Linked DNA regions of Homo sapiens. The protein of the gene in region 3 interacts with the protein of the main gene of each other region in a pairwise test. Each region holds a gene or a part of one and is shown on either strand. Other genes may lie near its edges.

What was found.
Region 1: the proteins of ING5 (region 3) and NAV2 interact in binary tests that used the Homo sapiens proteins (3 or more experiments, as listed by UniProt).
Region 2: the proteins of ING5 (region 3) and ODF2 interact in binary tests that used the Homo sapiens proteins (3 or more experiments, as listed by UniProt).

Annotation. Positions count from the first base shown.
Region 1 is NC_000011.10:19,707,907-19,715,858, reverse strand, and holds the start of NAV2 (neuron navigator 2), read right to left. Parts: upstream 3,023-7,952; 5' UTR 2,164-3,022; coding exon 1,897-2,163; exon of another isoform or gene 1,187-1,896; intron 1-1,186. UniProt on the Homo sapiens protein: Possesses 3' to 5' helicase activity and exonuclease activity. Involved in neuronal development, specifically in the development of different sensory organs.
Region 2 is NC_000009.12:128,452,053-128,459,027, reverse strand, and holds the start of ODF2 (outer dense fiber protein 2), read right to left. Parts: upstream 3,023-6,975; 5' UTR 2,937-3,022; coding exon 2,773-2,936; intron 2,597-2,772; exon of another isoform or gene 2,484-2,596; coding exon of another isoform or gene 2,452-2,483; intron 2,093-2,451; exon of another isoform or gene 1,965-2,092; intron 1,831-1,964; exon of another isoform or gene 1,623-1,830; coding exon of another isoform or gene 1,591-1,622; intron 1-1,590. UniProt on the Homo sapiens protein: Seems to be a major component of sperm tail outer dense fibers (ODF).
Region 3 is NC_000002.12:241,726,039-241,730,008, reverse strand, and holds the end of ING5 (inhibitor of growth protein 5), read right to left. Parts: 3' UTR 531-3,970; downstream 1-530. UniProt on the Homo sapiens protein: Component of the HBO1 complex, which specifically mediates acetylation of histone H3 at 'Lys-14' (H3K14ac) and, to a lower extent, acetylation of histone H4. Component of the MOZ/MORF complex which has a histone H3 acetyltransferase activity.

The sequences.
Region 1 (7,952 bases), on a different chromosome or scaffold from region 3:
AGCAGTCCATCCAAACTATGTTCACCATCAGTACACAAGGGCCCATTGAGGGCGAGAGAGGTGAAATGGGGGGATTATGGACCAAGGGCAAAAGAGGGAAGCAAAGTCTTGAGGGAAGTGGACTGTTCCAGCCCCTCAGAGAGAAGCTGAAGAACATTTTTTTTCACGGACAGGGTGATGAATCACCTTTCCAGAGCCTATGCACTGCCAGTCCTCTGACAATGTTTGTTAAATGAAGGGTCAAACGGGCAAAGGCAGAACAGCTGCCTGGATATGAACAATCCCAGCATGGACTTTCCCTCTCATTCCTCGGGTGCTCCTCATCAGGCTCGAGGGTATGTGTCACCTCCAGTCCCGAGTCACTGTACTGACCTCCCACCGACTGCCCACTACACCTCATAAACCCCAAGTCCATGGATGAAGGGAAACCCCATGCAGAAGTGTACCCTGGTGCTCACCCCCATGGCAGAGCCCACTGGACAAATCCTGTACGTAACAACAGAAGAAGAGCAGAGCACAAAACCCTCACAGAGGCAGGCCCCCGGAGCACTGGAGGAAATCTTGCCTTCCTCCCACACACCATCACTCAAACCTGTCAGCTTCCAAAAATGTTTAGCAAGTGCAGCAGCAAGGGGCATGCTTATCAGCCTGGTGTGGGAGCTTAATCTGCTTTGAGGGCCTTCTCCAGCCCAGAGTTCCAAAAGTCTGCTTACAATTAGCTTCAGCTCCAGTTCCCGCATCAGAAAGCCTAGGAACGTGTTGAGCTCTAGCCTCTGATCAGAGAAAGCTCCAGGAGAAGGTGGAGATGGTGTCAGCAGGGAAGTATGTGCCAAAAAGGTCAGCTGGTCTGTTGCCATTTTCCTGACACCAGCCCCAAACCACCTCCCCTCTGGCTTCCCGCCTCTCCTAACCGGACAGTCACATCCGTCAGGTCGGCCTGTCCCCAAAAGTCCCTGCTGACTGACTGCCAAGAAAATATAGCCCCCTCCTACCAGAAGAAGGGGGAAATGGAGCGGGGAGGACCAAGAGAACCTGATTGGCCCTTGCTAATTTCTGTAAAAGAGATTGCACGGCCAGGGCTTGTCTGGATGCAGGCTCTGTCTGGAAAGGTAGGAGTCACCAATTCTCTTCAAGCCATCTCCCATCCCCACGCCCCGTCACTCGGGCTACCAACACCAGGATCTACCACCCAGGAAGGAGGGGCTTAGCTTCGGCCGCCATTCTGAGGCAGCCACCTCCACCCCCACCCCCACCGCAACAGCCAGCCAAGGCGCTAGGAGTCTCCAGCTGCCGGCCTCAGCTGGTGCACTAGTACCGCAGTCCCAGCACCTTGCCCGGAATCCCGTCACCCCGCAGGATGGGGCAGGGACAGGTCATCTTCAAGCCAAGGGAAGAGCAGGTTCACTGCCACCCGCGATCCCCTTTTCTTCCTGGATCTTACAGCCAGGCTAGGGGGCGTCGAACCCAATGGGGCCTTAGATCATTCCTTGTCCGGAACAGAATCTCTGCGGAACCGCCAGACAGACACACAGCTGCTGCTGCGGATACTGGCTTCTTGGGGCCAAGACCTCAACATGCAGGACCTCACATTTCCAGCGATGCACACGTTTTTTGAGAACATCCCGACCTTTCCTCCTCCCCAGGAAGATGCTGCAGACGTGCCCGCCATCCCAGGTCTCGAAGAGCTCTTAAGGCAAACCTCCGGCACCCGGGCCACACCCACCGGCCGGCCCACTCTCCTCGCGCATCCCCCAACCTGCCGGCCTAAGGGGAATGGTTCCCTTCCCTGGCCACATGGTAGACCCTTCTCCCATCCAGCCCTTTCTCCCACACCATCCCGAAAGAACTATTCATCCATCCTTCCAGAACAGTACCCCGGCAAACGGCATCTCTCACCTGGGTATCGAACCCGTTTTCCACCGAGCCGCTCTTCCGCAGCGGGAGCCCCTCCCCCGCTGGCTCCTGCAGCCCCTGCAGCACCTGCGATTTCAGGGGGATCTGGCTAGGATAGGTGGTCTTGCTCACCTCCACCTTGCTTCCCAACTTCAGGTAGCAGGGCTGGGGGCCCGCCCGGGCCGGGGGCACGTGCAGGATGGGCGCGGCGCTGTGCACGGGTTTGGGCAGTCCCGACTTCATTTTGGAGGCGACCAGGATGGCCGGCATCTTCTCCCGGGGCTTGGGCTTTCCCAGCACGTCCCTGGCAGCGGCGGCGGGGGCGACCGCTAAAGGCAGCGCGGGTAGCAGAGCAGGCGCCGGGCCTTAGCCCACGAGGCGCCCACCACCAGCGGCTAAAAAAAAAATCCCCAGGTCGGGGAACTCGAAGCAATCGGGCGAGCGCGCCTTTGGGGTGCCGGGATGGGAATGGGGGACTGGCCACGGCGCTCAGCGGGTCCCACCTGGACGGATGCTGCCGCCGGGTCTCACACCTCTCCTGGGTGGCCTTTCAAGAGCTCTGGGCGCTCAGGGGCTGCCGCCTCTTGCAAATTTCCTCCTGGGAAACAGAGGCTTGGACGCCCATATTAACTTGTCACTGCATCTCCGAAGTGAGGAGGCCCCTTTGGAAGAGACAGAGGCGGCGGCGACCCACGAGTCCCGTTCCGGAGGCTACGGGTCTGAGCCGGCGAGAGAAAGAGCGAGCAGCCAAGGAAGGAAAGGAGACAGCAGCGAAGGAAGGAGAGAAGAAGGGCGCAAGGGTCCCAAGACGTCTCCACCGAGAGGCAGCTGCCACCCTGCTCGCGAGCACCGCAGTGTCACCCGCGACGCAGCAGAGGTGCGGCAAGAGCCCCCGAAAGGTCTCTCTTGGGGTGACAGTCACCGCTGCCCAGAAGGCCCCCGGACTGAGAGCACCTTAGCGCCTGCGGGTCTGCACATGCTCCGTGAGCTAGATAGAGGCAAGGCTGTGGCCGTGGGGCGCGGGCGCCGGGACGCGCGGCTGGCGGGCCGGGCAGGGCTGCGCTCGGGAGCGGCCGCCGCGCTTCCCGGGAAGGCTGCGCTGGCTGCGGGGCTCAGCGCAGGGGAGGACAGGCTGCTGCCGGCGCTGCTGCGGCGCGCGCTGACAGCCGGGGCCGCCCCGGCGCGCCCATTGGTCCACGGTGCGCCAATCAGCGGCCGCGGGTCTCACTGCAAAGAGGGTGTGGCCTAAACTCTGGCCGCCGCCGAAACTCTGGGGCCGCGCTTGGCCGCGAGTACAAAGCGGGCTGGTGGCCGCTTTGCGGCACTGCCCCGGCCGCGCGCCTCCCGGGGGGCCCACACCCCTGCGTTCCTGAAACCCTTCTTTTGAAAAATGCCCTTTCGAACGCAACCGTCCGCCCCAGAGCCACGCGGGCACGGCTCGAGGGAAGTTTGTTTCCTTTTTCAAATTGCTCCGGTCACCTTAACGGTTTGAGTCTTCCGGAGTCACGCCCGCAGCCTCGCTGCCCCCATCTGGCTTGGGCAGGGCCGAAGCTCGTCTCCCGCTTTAAGAGCGCGCCAGCCATTTCTCTGCCTGCTCTTCCAGGCCGGCTGGGCGGGGGGCCTCCCAACGGCTTCCTCTCCAGTTTTCAAAGGCTGCACATTTCACTTAACTATTTGAAGTATTTATAGGCAAATACAATACGCAGGGAAGCTTCCCGCCCCGAGACAGCTCCTCCACGCAACCTACCACAGACTCTGTAATTAGAGTGGCCTGAAGAAGCCGGGAGAGGCTCCATGACCCCGGCAGGCTCTGGCCAAACCTTGCTGCGTTTCATGGAGCCCCTCCCTGTCCGCGCCTGGGACGCACTGGCCCCAACAGGTTCCTCGACTCGAATTCGCTGTTTGGGTTGCTCTGTGGTTTCCTCGCTGACTGAAAGTGGATGAGAATAAGAAGGAAACTGAGAGATGATCAGGCAGGCCAGCCTTCGCGATTTATGAATGAGGAGCCTCCCACCCTGTAGAACTGCTTGGATTAGAAGTGGGCAAGTTATTTAAGCTTACATGCATGCTTATAAAGCTTCTGTTTTCACATGTAGTAAGGTGGAGGCTTGACGACATTTACCTAATGAGCTGTTGTTTGGATTAAATGAGATGGTTGGTGCATGGCAGTCATTTAGCACAAGTACCTGGCAATGTAAGAGACCAATAAAAGCTGGGCTTTATTTTCCCTGTTGTTAAATTACTGCTGCTTTCCCCCAAAGTCATCTCTGTTTATAAACTATTTGTCTTTCTTCTTTGTTTCCAGGACACTTTGTGCCCACCCTATAGCCTGATCTTCAGTGCTGATAGCATTGATTTAGAATAACTCAGATGCTATTAACTCTGTCCCCCTGGAATTCATGTTAAACCCGTAATCCCCAGTGTGATGGTATTAGGAGGTGGGGAACTTTAGGAGGTAATAAGGTCAAGACAGTGGAGCCCTCATGATAGGATTAGCACTCTTATTAGAAGAGACAGGAGAGAGATGCTTTCTTACTGCCTTGTGAGGACACAGAAGGCAGTCTTCTGTGGACCAGGAAGAGGGCCCTTACCAAGAATCTGATACCGTGTTGGCATCCTAGTCTCAGACTTCCAGCCTCTAGTACTGTAAGAAATAAATGTTTGTTGTTTAAGCCATCCTGTTTATGGTATTTTTGTTATAGTGGCCCAAAGTGACAAAGATCTCAGACCAGAGGAAACATCAAAGTCTTAACCTCTGAAGCATTAAGAAATGAGAAGGCACCTTCTTAGCCATTCTAGGTAGCAACTTTCTACTCTAGTTAGGCTGAAATGCACGGCCCTGTCTATGTCTGTTTCAGTTATCCTCCCTCTCTCTGAAATCAAGTCACACATCATTCATGCTACTTACTTAACACTTTGCCCTTTGCCATCTGATGCCACCTCCCGTACTATTGTCTCCCATTATTTAACCTGTTATTTATTGTTTCATGCATTCATTTTCATCTTAGAGAATAAACATCTTGGAATTAGGAGCTGTGTTTTAACTTTCTTTAGATCTTCTCAGTATGGAGCATAAAGCTGTGGACAGAATAGCTACCCAACATTTATACTGAATGAATGATTGAATGATGCTAGAAGAAGGAGAGATTGTCTTTTAGATTTAGGAACATAAGGACATACGAAATATTATGCTATAAACCTTGGGACTCTTTTGCCTGCCCTGAATTCTAGTTCTGACCAGTGTACCAAGATTTGTGGAAAGATATCACAATCTTCAGCTTCTAAAGATCAGGGAGATATTCCAAAGTATTCCCATGGCCCTAATGCAGTGGTTCTCAAAGTGTGGTCCCTGGAGCTGCAGAAGCATTACCTGGAAACTTGTTTGAAAGCTCCACCCAGACCTATTGAATCAAAAGCCCTGGGGATGGGGCCCAGCAATCTGTGTTTCAACAGTGTTCAACCTAGTGATTATGATGCATACTAAAACTTGAGATATTCTGCCCTAATGAATATATCATGCATTCAGTGCATCTCCAGAACTTCTTAAACCTTAATATGCCTAAGAATCACTGGGGATCTTGCTAAAATACAGATTCAGATTCAGTTGGTCTAGAATGGGGCTGAGATTCTGCTTTCCGAGTAAGTTCTCATGTCATGCACATGCTGGTGTTCTAAAGATCACGCTTTGAGTAGCACAGACAGCAGGAGGATTTCATCTTAAGGGCCATCTACTGAAAAGGATCTCAGAGTGCATCCATCTAGTTGGAAATAGCCGCCTGATCACTTGATAATGTCTGCTATGGGTATATAAATGGAAATAGTGAAATACATATTATGTATTTGCCATCTTTGGTTTCCTGTTTAAATTGTATTTACTGCCAAGGTCATTTCGGGGTTCTGAGACCCTCAAATATGCATAAATATGAACAACAGTATTTCTTTTAAAGTATTTCTAATGTTCTAGGATTGGTAAACATGAGCATTTCCCTTAACCCTGTGTGTTTTATATAACTAAATTCTGATAATTCTTCATTTTTCTTGATGAAAGATCTTTCACTTGAGGACAAGTGAATCTTTTAGTCTGTTTCCAAATTTCTTTCTTTTCCTGCCTCTTCTTCCCTTTAGTAATTCTATTTGCTTTTTCCTGGAGCATTATTTATCTCCTTTTTTTTTGTGACCGAGTTTTGCTCTAATTTCCCAGGCTGGAAGCTGGAGTGCAATGGCGCGATCTTGGCTCACTGCAGCTGGGATTACAGGCGCATGCCACCACACCCGGCTAATTTTTGTATTTTTAGTAGAGACGGGGTTTCGTCATATTGGTCAGGCTGGTCTGGAACTCCAGACCTCAAGTGATCCACCTGCCTTGGCCTCCCAAAGATTCATCTCCTTTTATATCTTTTTTTTTTTTTTTTTTTTTTTGAGACGGAGTCTCACTCTGCTGCCCAGGCTGGAGTGCAGTGGCACGATATTGGCTCACTACCCAGGAAGCTCCGCCTCCTGGGTACACCCCATTCTCCTGCCTCAGCCTCCTGAGTAGCTGGGACTACAGGCACCCGCCACCATGCCCAGCTAATTTTTTGTATTTTTAGTAGAGACGGGGTTCCACCATGTTAGCCAGGATGGTCTCGACCTCCTGACCTCGTGATTCGCCCGCCTTGGCCTCCCAAAGTGCTGGGATTACAGGCGTGAGCCACCGTGCCTGGCCCTATCTCCTTTTAGATATTTTCTATAAACGTTCATTTTTCTTATTTAAAGCAAAATAATTTATCATAATAACCAGACAAGGGTGGGGCGGGGGGAAGCTATTTTTTCTCCTAGGATAAATGAGATAATTATAAGTTTCTTACTTAAATAAGATAATCTCAAATTATAAAAACGGCCTATAAGTTTACTCCTTCCACACTGATACTGTGTTAACATGAAAAACGTCATTTTAAATCAATGTTTTGCAAGCATTGGAGGCTAACGCAAGTCACTGGTTTGGAGAATGGCAAGCTGCTCTGGAAAGAATACACTATCCAGGTATTAAAATAACTTTTTTCTTTTTTTCTTTTTTTTTTTTTTTTACTATATGCATTATGGACAAGTATGCCAAGTTGAAATGGCCCACCATTTTAAATTCCAACTTTGACAACCATTCTTTATTTTTCTTCTGGCTCAGAACTTGCAGAATCACCCAAATGTCAGTGATAGGCCAAATTGAAACGTATTATCAAAGCTCTCAGGTCCACTGAATCATCCTAAGAGACTGGATAGTTCCCTGGTTCTAAGAGCCATCCTCAGATCAGGAAGTGCCAGCTGCACCCCTCTCTGCTCCTCAACGTCAGCCACTTGTGATTAGTTGAGTGTGAATTGGGCTTCAGACCTGACCTGTGAGTGACCAGTTCCATCAACCCATCCTTCATCTTAGTTAAAGACCCCTGTTGGCCTGACCTCCCAAGAAGACAGTCCGGTGAAGAGCCTGGAACATCTAAGGCCCAGCCTGTCACAAAAAAATGCAGGGATCTTGGGGGGAAAAGTCTACAGCCTTTTGGAGACCCTAGATTATACATGATGAGGGGAAATGTTGCAAAGTTTCTTGAATAATATAAAAAGCAAAATATTTATGAGTTTATTTGGGAGTAAAAAAAATGCACTTTTCCTTAATTTTCTACAAATGGGTTGGCAACTTATGAGACATCTCCGAGATGGCACAAAGGCTCACCTTTTAGTAGTGGCTGAGTTGAGAGGCCACCCATCTCATACTGCAGAGAAGTGAGGTAAGAACCTTAAGACATCTCTTTGGAAAGTCTGCTCATCTACTCACCCTATCAGTGACTCACTTCCAATCTCAAACTTTCTTCCAGATGGGTCTGTGTGCAAATCAGTATGCCCAATGGTAACCTCTGGGGCTTTTTTTCTGAGAACAAAGGCTGAGGGTTCCCCTACCTGCAGAAGCTAGAGTGTGAGGGGTATGTATGTGTGTATGTGTGTTTATAGGCATTTGAGTCAATGACCCAGACTAAATGTCAAATAAATATAGTCACGCACTGCATAATGATGTTTTGGTCAATGACTGA
Region 2 (6,975 bases), on a different chromosome or scaffold from region 3:
ACAAAACATACAAAAATTAGCTTGGCGTGGTGGCGTGTGTCTGTAGTCCCAGCTACTCGGGAGGCTGAGGTGGGAGAATCAATTAAGCCTGGGAGGTGGAGGCTGCAGTGAGCCGTAACCACGCCACTGCACTCCAGCCTAGGTGGCAGAGGGAGACCCCGTTTCAAAACAACAACAAAAAAGAAAAAAAAATTTTTTCAAAGAGCATTAGGCTCAGGCACGAGAGGTCACTGTGACGCACACTCATCAAATTAAGGCTCAAATATTCCCCTAAGAGAATAAAAAAGTATCTAGTTCCCAAAATATTCCACTTGCTATCCTTTAAGCTCTCAAGCAGCAGGGGATTTTTTTTTAATGCCATGTCTAATTCACCTTGCTTACACATATACTGTACAGCTCCATCACCAGATCTGCAAAGACAGCCAAATAAAAAAAAAAAAAAGAGAGAGAGCAAAAGTCTATTTGCTCCAAAATCTTTCAGCAGTATATCCAAAAAGTCCAGGATGGGAAGGGCCTTGGAATAACCATCTGATCCATCTCCTGGCCTTTTTTTTTTTTTTTTTTTTGAGATAGAGTCTCGCTCTGTCGCCCAGGCTGGAGTGCAGTGGCCCAATCTTGGCTTACTGCAACCTCTGCCTCCTGGCTTCAAGCAATTCTCCAATTCTCCTGCCCCAGGCTCCTGAGTAGCTGGGATTACAGGCGTGTGCCACCATGCCCAGCTAATTTTTTATGTTTCTAGTAAAGACGGGGTTTCACCATGTTGGTCAGGCTGGTCTCAAACTCCTGACCTCAGGTGATCCACCCACCTTGGCCTCTCAAAGTGCTAGGATTGCACAGGCATGAGCCACCGCACCTGGCCCCCCAAAGTGGGGGGAGATCAGAGAGGCTGGAGCGACCAGGGGGTGGCAGGGAGGGTGGGGCAGAGACAGGGAGGTCCAAAATTATCATCTTGCCCTCTTTACAAACACTTGGGGAAAATAATGCAACATCAAAATGCAAGGAAAAAAATACTTGAGCACTTTGGTATGCGTTTTGCTGTATATGTATTACATCGTGATTTTAAAAAGAGGGGAAAAAAAAAAAATATATATATATATATAGACCTCTACTGATCCTTTAGCCAAGGAATACCAAAACTGAGAAGACAGGCTTTTTTCCCTAATCATTTAGAACATTGTTCACGTAAAGCCAATAGCTTTGGGAAATCTCTCAGTGGGTTTCTTGTCAAACCACCTGGATTCCATTATCTTGCTAACTGCCACATCCACCTCCTACGTGTTATTTATTTACACCTCGACTCCCTTCAAAAAGGCTCTGAACCTAGTACTCTATTATATAAAGACAACAAGAGTGACCCTGTTTGCTTCCAGGAAGCTGTGACATCTGGGGAGGGAAGGAGCGAGGGAGGTAGAGCTAGGATTGTGTATACATTTCGTTCCCCCTTCCCTTTAAAAACGATTTTTAAACGTTTTGGTCCAGACTTTCAGCAAACACAATGAGGAAGCTGGAAGCCTCAGGCGAGCCTGCCCTGGGGACCCCTGGCCACCTTTCCCTGCCCTCCGGCGCAGGCGCCTCCCACATCGGCAATACCTGGGGGAGCCGCCTGAGGATGAGGCAGACATGGCTAGGCATCAAAGCCGCAAAGGTGGGCAATTGGGTCAGCAGGCTCTGCTCAGGGGGACCCAGAGGGGCAGGCTTGTCAATGAGCCTCTCAAGGGGCCCGGCATCAAACGTCCTCTCTGAGGGGAGAAGGGTGGAAGCTTTGGGGTTGGCAGTTGGATGAAAACTTGGGAGGCGCTCCTCTACTGTCCAAGTCGCACAGCAACTGTCCTGCCAAAGTAGGGGGAAATAGTAGAGGCTGAGCGACCTGGGGGCAGAGGGGAGGAAGGGGAGGGGACGGGGCAGAACCGCGAGGGAAAGGACCACCGCGCCCGGGTCCCACGCGGAGGACTGCCGGTGGCTACCGGGGGAAACCTGAGGCGCCGGCGGACGTGCGGAGAGGGCGGGTGAGAACCGCTCGGCCCCAAGTGGGCCCCAGAGGGCCAGAACCGCGCAGGGAGCCGCGGGGATGCTGGGGCGGGGCCGGACAACTGTCTCCTAGGAGAAGGGGCGTTACGGAAGAACAGATGCCCGAGAGGACCAATAGTGTTTAAAGGAGGGAGGCGCGGAGGTTGCACGGGCCCCGGGCGCCCCGCCGCGAGGGAAAACCGAACAGAGTTCTGAGCAGGATAGACGCCGGGCTGGGAGGGGGCGGGCGGGACCCCCCCCCGCCGGGCGAGGGCCCTGGCAAGCCGGAGACGGTGCCCGGGGGACAGCGCTGCCTACGGAGGGCGTACAAGTGACTGCCATGTGGAGGCCCGAGGAGAGGACGAGGCGGTCGGGGCGATGCCGCCGACGGGCAGCAGAGCGAGGGAGAGCCTCTGTCGGCGGAGAGAAGGGACGGCCACCCACCAGCAGGCAGGAGGGTACCGGTTTCTGCCCATAGAGAGAAAGGTGAAGCCCTGCCCGCGGGCGGCAGAGGAGGGGCAGAGCCCCGTGGTAGCCAAGAGAGGAAGGAGGCGGCCGACCGCCCGTTAGCGGGAGGAGGAGAGGCCCCGCGCCGGTGGGCGGGGCGGGGGCCCAGGTTCTGACAGGAGGGGGACGAGCGCAACGCGGCGGGGAACCCAGGACCCGACGGCCCCGCGGGGTCGACCGCGCCGGGGGTGCGAAGGCGACGGTCTCGCCCGCGGTGCCCCGGAGGGCGCTGGATCCCGCCTGCCGGCGGCCTCTCACCAGGAGCGACACGGCTGCGCCCAGAAACGCCGCCTTATGAAGTCGTTGAAGTCGGAGGCCAGGGTCGTGCCATGGAGACGCCGCGGCGGATGCAGTCTGGCTCTGGCAGCGGCTCCTCCCCGCTTCCGCCTCCTTTTCCGACACCCGGTCGGCAGCTCGCCCATTGGCCAGTTCAAACCCCCCCGGGAGCCGCTTGGGTTTCGCCATCGAGGCCCAGCCCCTAGCGTCACAGAGATGCCCCGCCCCGCCAGAAGGGCCGCCCACTTCCGGGCCACGCGTCCCGTCACCAAGGAGACGTGCTACGCGTCCAGCGGGCCTGGCCGGGTCTCGCCCCCCATTCAAGGCCTTTCCCGCTCGGCCCTGTTTCCCCTGCCTTGGATCCTCCCGGATTCCCCTCACTCAAAGGAGCGTACGGTTCCGACGCCCTCCCCTCGGTACCCACCAGGAAACTAGGCTCACAGAGGACCCATGGAACTAGTTATTGGGAGCTGCACACTGCCTCCGAAAATCCAGCCCTGCCCCTAGTCCACTATTAATGCGGAGATGGAGTCGGCTTCTGCGCATTCCCCGGCCTCTCCCCTGCCCACATCGCCTCTGTCTTGGCCCCAACAGGAGAAAGGGTCGGCATTCCCCTTGCTGTTCTGTTCACTACCTTCCTGCACTTTTTTTTTTTTTTTTTTTTTTTTTTTTTTTTTTTTTTTTGAGACAGATTCTTGCTCTGTTGCCCAGGCTGGAGTGCAGTGGCGCGATCTCGGCTCACCGCAACCTCCGCCTCCCGGGTTCACGCCATTCTCCTGCCTGAGCCTCCCGAGTAACTGGGACTACTGGCGCCCGCCACAACGCCCGGCTAATTTTTTTTTGTATTTTTAGTAGAGACGGGGTTTCACCGTGTTGGGCAGGATAGTCTCCATCTCCTGACCTCATGATCCACCCGCCTCGGCCTTCCAAAGTGCTTGTATTACAGGCTTGAGCCTCCGCGCCCGGTCTACTACCCTCCTGCACTCTCTATGCCGCTCTGTGTACAGACCTATTCTGATGAGGTCCTTGCTGGTCCGCCATCTTCTCAATTATGCTTCACTGTCAGCCAGTCAGGGGAGGTCTGTCACGTGGCTCATAATGCCGCCCTGGAATCTGGGAGACCTGAACCACCTCCGGGCCAACTGGGCCACAGTCCCTTGACCTTTCTCCAGTGACCCCGCAGCACCTTAGCCACACAGCTCCAGGGTCACACAAGTGTTTCACCTGCAATCCTAAAGTCAGACTCGCAAACAAAACCTGCTTTTCCGCCTCGCTTTCACAGTATACTGCATACTGAATTTGTTCTGTAATGTCAGGGAGCTCCCCAATCCCTTGATCCATTCATTGTCTCTCTGTTGAATAATTGATAGATTTCCTAATCCTCATTAACCATTTAAGACTGCGGTGGCTCACGCCTGTAGTCCCAGCACTTTGGGAGGCTGAGGCAGGCGGATCACCTAAGGTCAGAAGTTCAAGACCAGACTGCCCAACATAGCGAAACCCCGTCTCTACTAAAAATACAAAAATTAACCGGGCATGGTGGTGTGTGCCTGTAATCCCAGCTACTAGGGAGGAGGAGGCAGGGAGAATTCCTTGAACCTGGAAGGCGGAGGTTGCAGTGAGCCAAAATCACCACTACACTTCAGCCTGGGTGACAGAGTGAGACTCTTGTCTCAAAAAAAAAAAAAAAAAAAAAAAAGTATATACAGGTTCAAGGAAAAGAGGACAGGAAAAGGAGGTCCCGGTCCTCCTGGGGCAGGCAGGAGATGGTTCCCAGAGGTGATGGTATTGGAACTGAGCCATGAAAGGTGAGTGGAAGTTCGCCAAACAAGCAGCAAAGGGAATTCTAAACAGACTGCAGTAGGTACACAGGTACCACATGCAGGTACAAGAGAATACTGCATATTCTATGAAGCATCATCACTGCAGTCCCTTGAAGTGTTACAGGGCCAGCGATGAGAGAAATCCTGCCAAAGTCAGCAGGACCAGACTATGCAGCGTCTGATAGGCCAGCCTAAGGTGTTGGACTTCATCCCTCAGAAGCCTGGAAAACCATGAGAGGGTTTTCAGTATTTCACTCTAGGCTGGGCGCTGTGGCTCACACCTGTAATCCCAGCACTTTGGGAGGCCGAGGCAGGTTGATCACTTGAGGTCAAGAATTTGAGACCAGCCTGGCCAACGTGGTGAAACCCCGTCTCTACTAAAAGTACAAAAATTAGCTGGGCGTGGCAGCCGGCGACTATAGTCCCAGCTACTCAGGAGGCTGAGGCAGGAGAATCACTTAAACCCAGGAGGTAGAGGTTACAGTGAGCCAAGATTGCACCACTGCACTCCAGCCTGGGCGACAGAGCGCGACGCCATCTCAAAAAAAAAAAAAAAAAATAGTGGCCAAGCGCAAAGTGGCTCAAGCCTGTAATACCAGCACTTTGAGAGGTTGAGGCAGGCAGATCACCTGAGGTCAGGAGTTCCAGACCAGCCTGGCAGACATGTGGAAACCTCATCTCTACTAAAAATACAAAAATTATCCGGGCGTGGTGGTGCATGCCTGTAATCCCAGCTACTCAGGAGGCTGAGGCATGAGAATTGCATGAACCTGGAAGGCAGAGGTTGCCATGAGCCAAGATTGCAACACTGCACTCCACCCTGGAGGATAGAGCGAGACTCCATCTCCAAAAATGTGGAGCATGGATTGGAAAGACAAGAAAGCATGTAGAGAGAGGAGGCCTTTGCAATATTAACTGTAAACAAAATTTGGGGGTCAGGGGTGGCAGACGTGGTGGCTCATGCCTGTAATCCCAGCACTTTGGGAGACTGAGGTGGGAGGATTACCTGAGCTCAGGAGTTTGAGAGCAGCCTGAGCAACATGGGGAGGCCCAATCTCTTAAAAAAAAAAAAGGCGGGGGGCTGGGCACGGTGTCTCACGTCTGTAATCCCAGCACTTTGGGAGGCCGAGGCAGGCAGATGACTTGAGGTCAGGAGTTCCAGACCAGCCTGGCCAATGGGCGAAACCCCATCTCTACTAAAAATACAAAAAAATTAGCCAGGCATGGTGGCGGGCACCTGTAATCCCAGCTACTCGGGAGGCTGAGACAGGAGAACTGCGCTAACCCGGAAGGCAGAGGTTGCAGTGAGCAGGGATCCCGCCACTGCACTCCAGTCTGGACGACACAGTGAGACTCCATCTCAAAAAAAAAAAAAAAAAAAAAAATCACCGGGCATGGTGGCTCATGCCTGTAATCTCAGCACTTTTGGAGGCTGAGGTGGGAGGATTGCTTGAAACCTGGAGTTTCAAACCAGCCTGGGCGACATAGGGGACACCATCTCTACAAAACATTTTTAAAAGTTAGCCGGGCATGGTGGCACATGCCTGTAGTTCCAGCTACTTAGGAGGCTGAGGTGGGAGGGTCACTTGAGCCTGGGAGTTCAAGACTGCAGTGAGCCGTGATTGTGCCACTGTACTCAAGCCTGGGTGAAATAGTGAGACTCTATCTCAAAAAATAAACATAAATAAATAAACATAAATAAATATACACATTTTTATACATACATATTATATGTAATATACCCAGGCTAGAGTGCAGTGGCATGATTACAGCTCACTGCAACCTCAAGCTCCTGAGCTCCAACGATCCTCCCTCCTCAGCCTCTTGAGTAGCTAAGACTGCTGGTGCGGGTCACCAAGCCCGACTAATTTTTTTTTTTTTTTTTTGAGACCGTCTCACTATGTTTCCCAGGCTGGTCTCTAACTCCTGGTCTCAAGTGATTCTCCCACCTCCCGAGGAGGTGCATCAGTCTCCCAAGTAGCTGGGATTACAAGGACAAGCCACTGCACCTGGTTGTAATATAAACTTGTATGAGATTGCTCTGTCACTGCCTGCTGGCCACCCCAGTGTCCCCACTCGACCATGGATTCCTTGTGGACTAGGGTGACATCACAGTCATTTCTGTATCTCCAGTAGCCAAACCAACCTGTAAACGGTAGACAATCAACAAAAAAAATGTTGAATGAATGTATGGATTAATAATACTATTAATAATGCCACCTAGTACATTAAGTGGGAGGGAGGTAGTATTCACGGGAAGGGAGGTAGCATTCCAGAGAATGCCCTGGGTACCCCTTGTAGACCTCACCCCCTCCCTGCAGGAGAGGACGTTAGCCAAGCAGCATCCCAGCTCCCAATCCTC
Region 3 (3,970 bases):
CCTTTCACTTGGCTCTCATTTTCTATTGTCTGCTGCCATGTAAGATAAGCCTTTCGTCTCCCGCCATGATTGTGAGGCCTCCCCAGCCATGTGGAACTGAGGGTCCACCAGACCTCTTTTTCTGTCAGGTGCGGTGGCTCACGCCTGTAATCCCAACACTTTGGGAGGCTGAGGCAGGCAGATCACCTGAGGTCAGGAGTTCAAGACCAGCTTGGCCAACATGGCAAAACCCCATCTCTACTAAAAATACAAAAATTAGCAGGGCGTGGTGGCACGTGCCTGTAGTCCCAGCTACTCAGGAGGCTGAGGCAGGAGAATCACCTGAACCCGGGAGGCAGATGTTACAGTGAGCCGAAATCATGCAGTGCCATTGCACTCCAGCCTGGGTGACAGAGCAAGACTCCGTCTCAAAAAAAGAGAAAAGAAAATTTTTTTTAAAAAAAACCTCTTTTTCTTTACAAATTACCCAATCTCGGGTATGTCTTTATCAGCAGCGTGAAAACGGGCTAATACAGATGCACTTTCAATTGTTTGTTCCAAAAAATACTTTATTTATTAAACAATATATCCATAATCTATAACATGATCCAAAAATACTGATATACATCTTTACATTATCTAATAAAAAGATTTACAACATTATCTTTCCTTTACAAAGGGAACATAGATAATAATTCCTTGAAAATAAAAATGTAACATTCATGTTAAAGCTGCATCATCGTTTTGGATGAAACGTGGTTAAAGGTGGACACCACAAAATACATACAGAGGAAGAAAGAAACTCCAACACAATCTCTCCTGAATGGGAACATTTTCTTACACTTCCCCTGGCTTAAAATTCCTCTCAGCACAAGTATTGAAGGCCAATCACTGCTCACTAAAAATTTAAGAAAACCTTAAGTCTTCAATGCCCATAATTAACATCCCTCACGGTTTTACTCTAAACCATGAAGACCTAACCTAGGACAGGGCAGACCCTCGGCTCTGGGGTCATGTGGGAAGCTGCTCTGGGCCAGCGTCATTGCTCAAAGCAGCCCCAGCCAGGGCTCCCAACGACAGGACAGGAGGCCAAGTCCGGCAGGGCTGCTGGACACCAGACAAGCTGGCCGGTGTCCCCATCAGTCCCAGCAAACCCTCCCACCGCCACCAGTCTGCACAGCTGCTTCTCGCTGCTCCAGGCAGACTGGAAAACACCCACGCCACAAAGCCCTGGCCAACAGTGAGACGGGCGGTCAGCTGCTGCTCAGGCAGCCACGTAGGCCTCCGCACGGCGTCCCTGGCCAACAGTGGTCTCATGTCCACCCGCCCAGGGGTCCCGTCCAGCATGAGACGGGCGGTCAGCTGCTGCTCAGGAGGCCACGCAGGCCTCCGCTTGGCATCCATGTCCCCAGCAGCAGCACCTAGGGCACATTCGCAGATGCAGAGGGCTCGGTTTCACCAGCTCCTGTTTTCACTGCAGCCTGCCTTCCCCTACAGGATTTCCTCAGATCACTGACTGATACCGCAGCACTGAAAACAAGGAAAATGGGTAGAACGCTCCTTCCCATCGAGGTCAATCGCACAGCCACAGAGGACCCACACCTTCGGCTCAGATGAAGCTGCCACAGTGACCCACTGGTTCCAGCCCACACACCCTCAATCCAAGAGATGGGTCTGGGGCCGGGCAGCTGTGGAGGGGGGTCTGGTCCGAGACCAAATCCTTGAATCACCCCCAGGGAGAAGGCGGCCAGGCCTTCTGGAGCAAGGCGTGGATGGTGCAAATGGTGTGGCTTCTGTGTCCCTGCAGGGCGGGGGCCAGGCCAGGGGCCATGACCTTCTTTTCTGGCCAAACGGCCACTCCTGAGTGTGTCTCTCCCACGGGTAGACAGCGTCAGCCACAGAGCACTCAGGATTCAGTTGGGTCCAAACTACAGCCCAAGGAATTGTCTCATTCTGCTCATGTTTTCTATGTTTCTTCCAAAACTCTATGCATATTATTTTGGTGATATTATTGTAAGTGGCAAAAGTAAACATTAAAAACACTAAGCACAGAAACTTGAAAAGAAAAGGTCAAAATTCAATACCTGGGATGGTGCACAGTGGCAGGCAGGACCACATCATCACGTGTCAGACAAAAGCGTCCCACAGGGAAGCCAGTCATCTTTCCCCAAAAAGCAGCGAGACCTCAGGAAGCCGGGCAGCCAAAAGCATCAACAACCCCAGCGCTTTCCAGGGGTAGCCACAGGTGTGAACAGCTCAAAGGTGGAGCGCAATATCAAATTCATTTCTGAAAAATTGCCAGGCGCTGTTTCAGCACAAACTCCCTGCACTTACCTATCCCTCTTCCCAAAAATGGTAAAAGAGAGAAAAACATTTTCCACAATGTATCCTCCACGATCAATAAACATCTGTGTTGGCCGGGTGCGGTGGCTCATGCCTGTCATCCCAGCACTTTGGGAGGTCGAGGCGGGTGGATCACTTCAGGTCAGGAGTTCGAGACCAGCCTGGCCACACATGGTGAAACCCCATTTCTACTAAAAATACAAAAATTAGCTGGGCGTGGTGGTGGACGCCTATAATCCCAGCTGCTCGGGAGGCTAAGGCAAGAGAATCACTTGAACCCAGGAAGCAGAGGTTGCAGTGAGCCAAGATGGTGCCATTGCATTCCAGCCTGGGTGACAGAGCAAAACTCCGTTTCAAAAACACAAAACAAAAAACAAAACACACACACACACACACACACAAAACCTGTGCTAACAAAAAGTTAAGTCATTAAATGAAAATTCATCTCCCAGCTGAGCGCAGTGGCTGACACCTGTAATCCCAGCACTCTGGGAAGCCGACGCAGGCGGATCATTTGACCCCAGGAGTTTGAGACCAGTCTGGCCAATATGGTGAAACCCCGTCTCCAACAAAAATACAAACTTAGCTGGGTGGCCAGGCGCGGTGGCTCACGCCTGTAATCCCAGCACTCTGGGAAGCCGAGGCGGGCAAATCGTGAGGTCAGGAGATCGAGACCATCCTGGTTAACATGGTGAAACCCTGTCTCTACTAAAAATATAAAAAATTAGCCAGGCGTGGTGGCGGGCGCCTGTAGTCCCAGCTACTCGGGGGGGCTGAGGCAGGAGAATGGCGTGAACCCGGGAGGCGGAGCTTGCAGTGAGCCGAGATCACGCCACTGCTCTCCAGCCTGGGTGACAGAGCAAGACTCCGTCTCAAAAAAAAAAATTAACATACAAAACCCACCCATCTCCAGTTTCACAGCCGTGGCGAAGGGTGTGAAGCACTGTAGCCTGCCCTCTCTGGCGCTTTCCCTTCTAAGCCGCAGGAAGGCACCGCTTGGAGGGAGCCCCTTCAGGCCCAGACACTGGCAGGGACGAGCAGCAGCAGTGGCCGACCGCCCGCCTGCACCTGCCTGGCACCTGCGCCCGGAGGATCCACTCCCACCCACACCCTCGGAAAAGGACAGGTGGCCCAGAGGCATCCGTGTGTTCAAGAACCGCAGAACATGAATGTGGACACCATCCCAACCAGGACTGTTCAGGGTGTTCTTGTTCTCTTGTTCTCACTCACTGACTACCAGCTTCTCGACGGGAGGGCCCCGTCTGAGACACAGAGCTTCACACGTTCCTTCTGCTTTATTTCCTCTCCCTAGTGAAACATTAAACACAGGAGGAAAAGATACAGATGTAGCCATCAGAAGGAAGTGAGGCTGTCATTCCAAATGGCCCCCCACCATGAAGAAACCCAGGCTTCTTAAATCAGGAACCTCACGTCTCAGTTTTCCCTCAGGTTTCTTTCTGTGGTGTGAGGACAGAAACAGGCGTCCCTGCATTCCTCAGCAATCCTCTCCTTCCTCTAAAGGCACGGGAGAGGATTTCCGAGCGCCTGCGATGCTGTGGGGAACCGCAGGCTGGGCACCGTCACCAACGCGTCACAACAGAGCAAATCTGCATAGCCTTCCCCAACTACCACCGAAAGGATGGCTCCG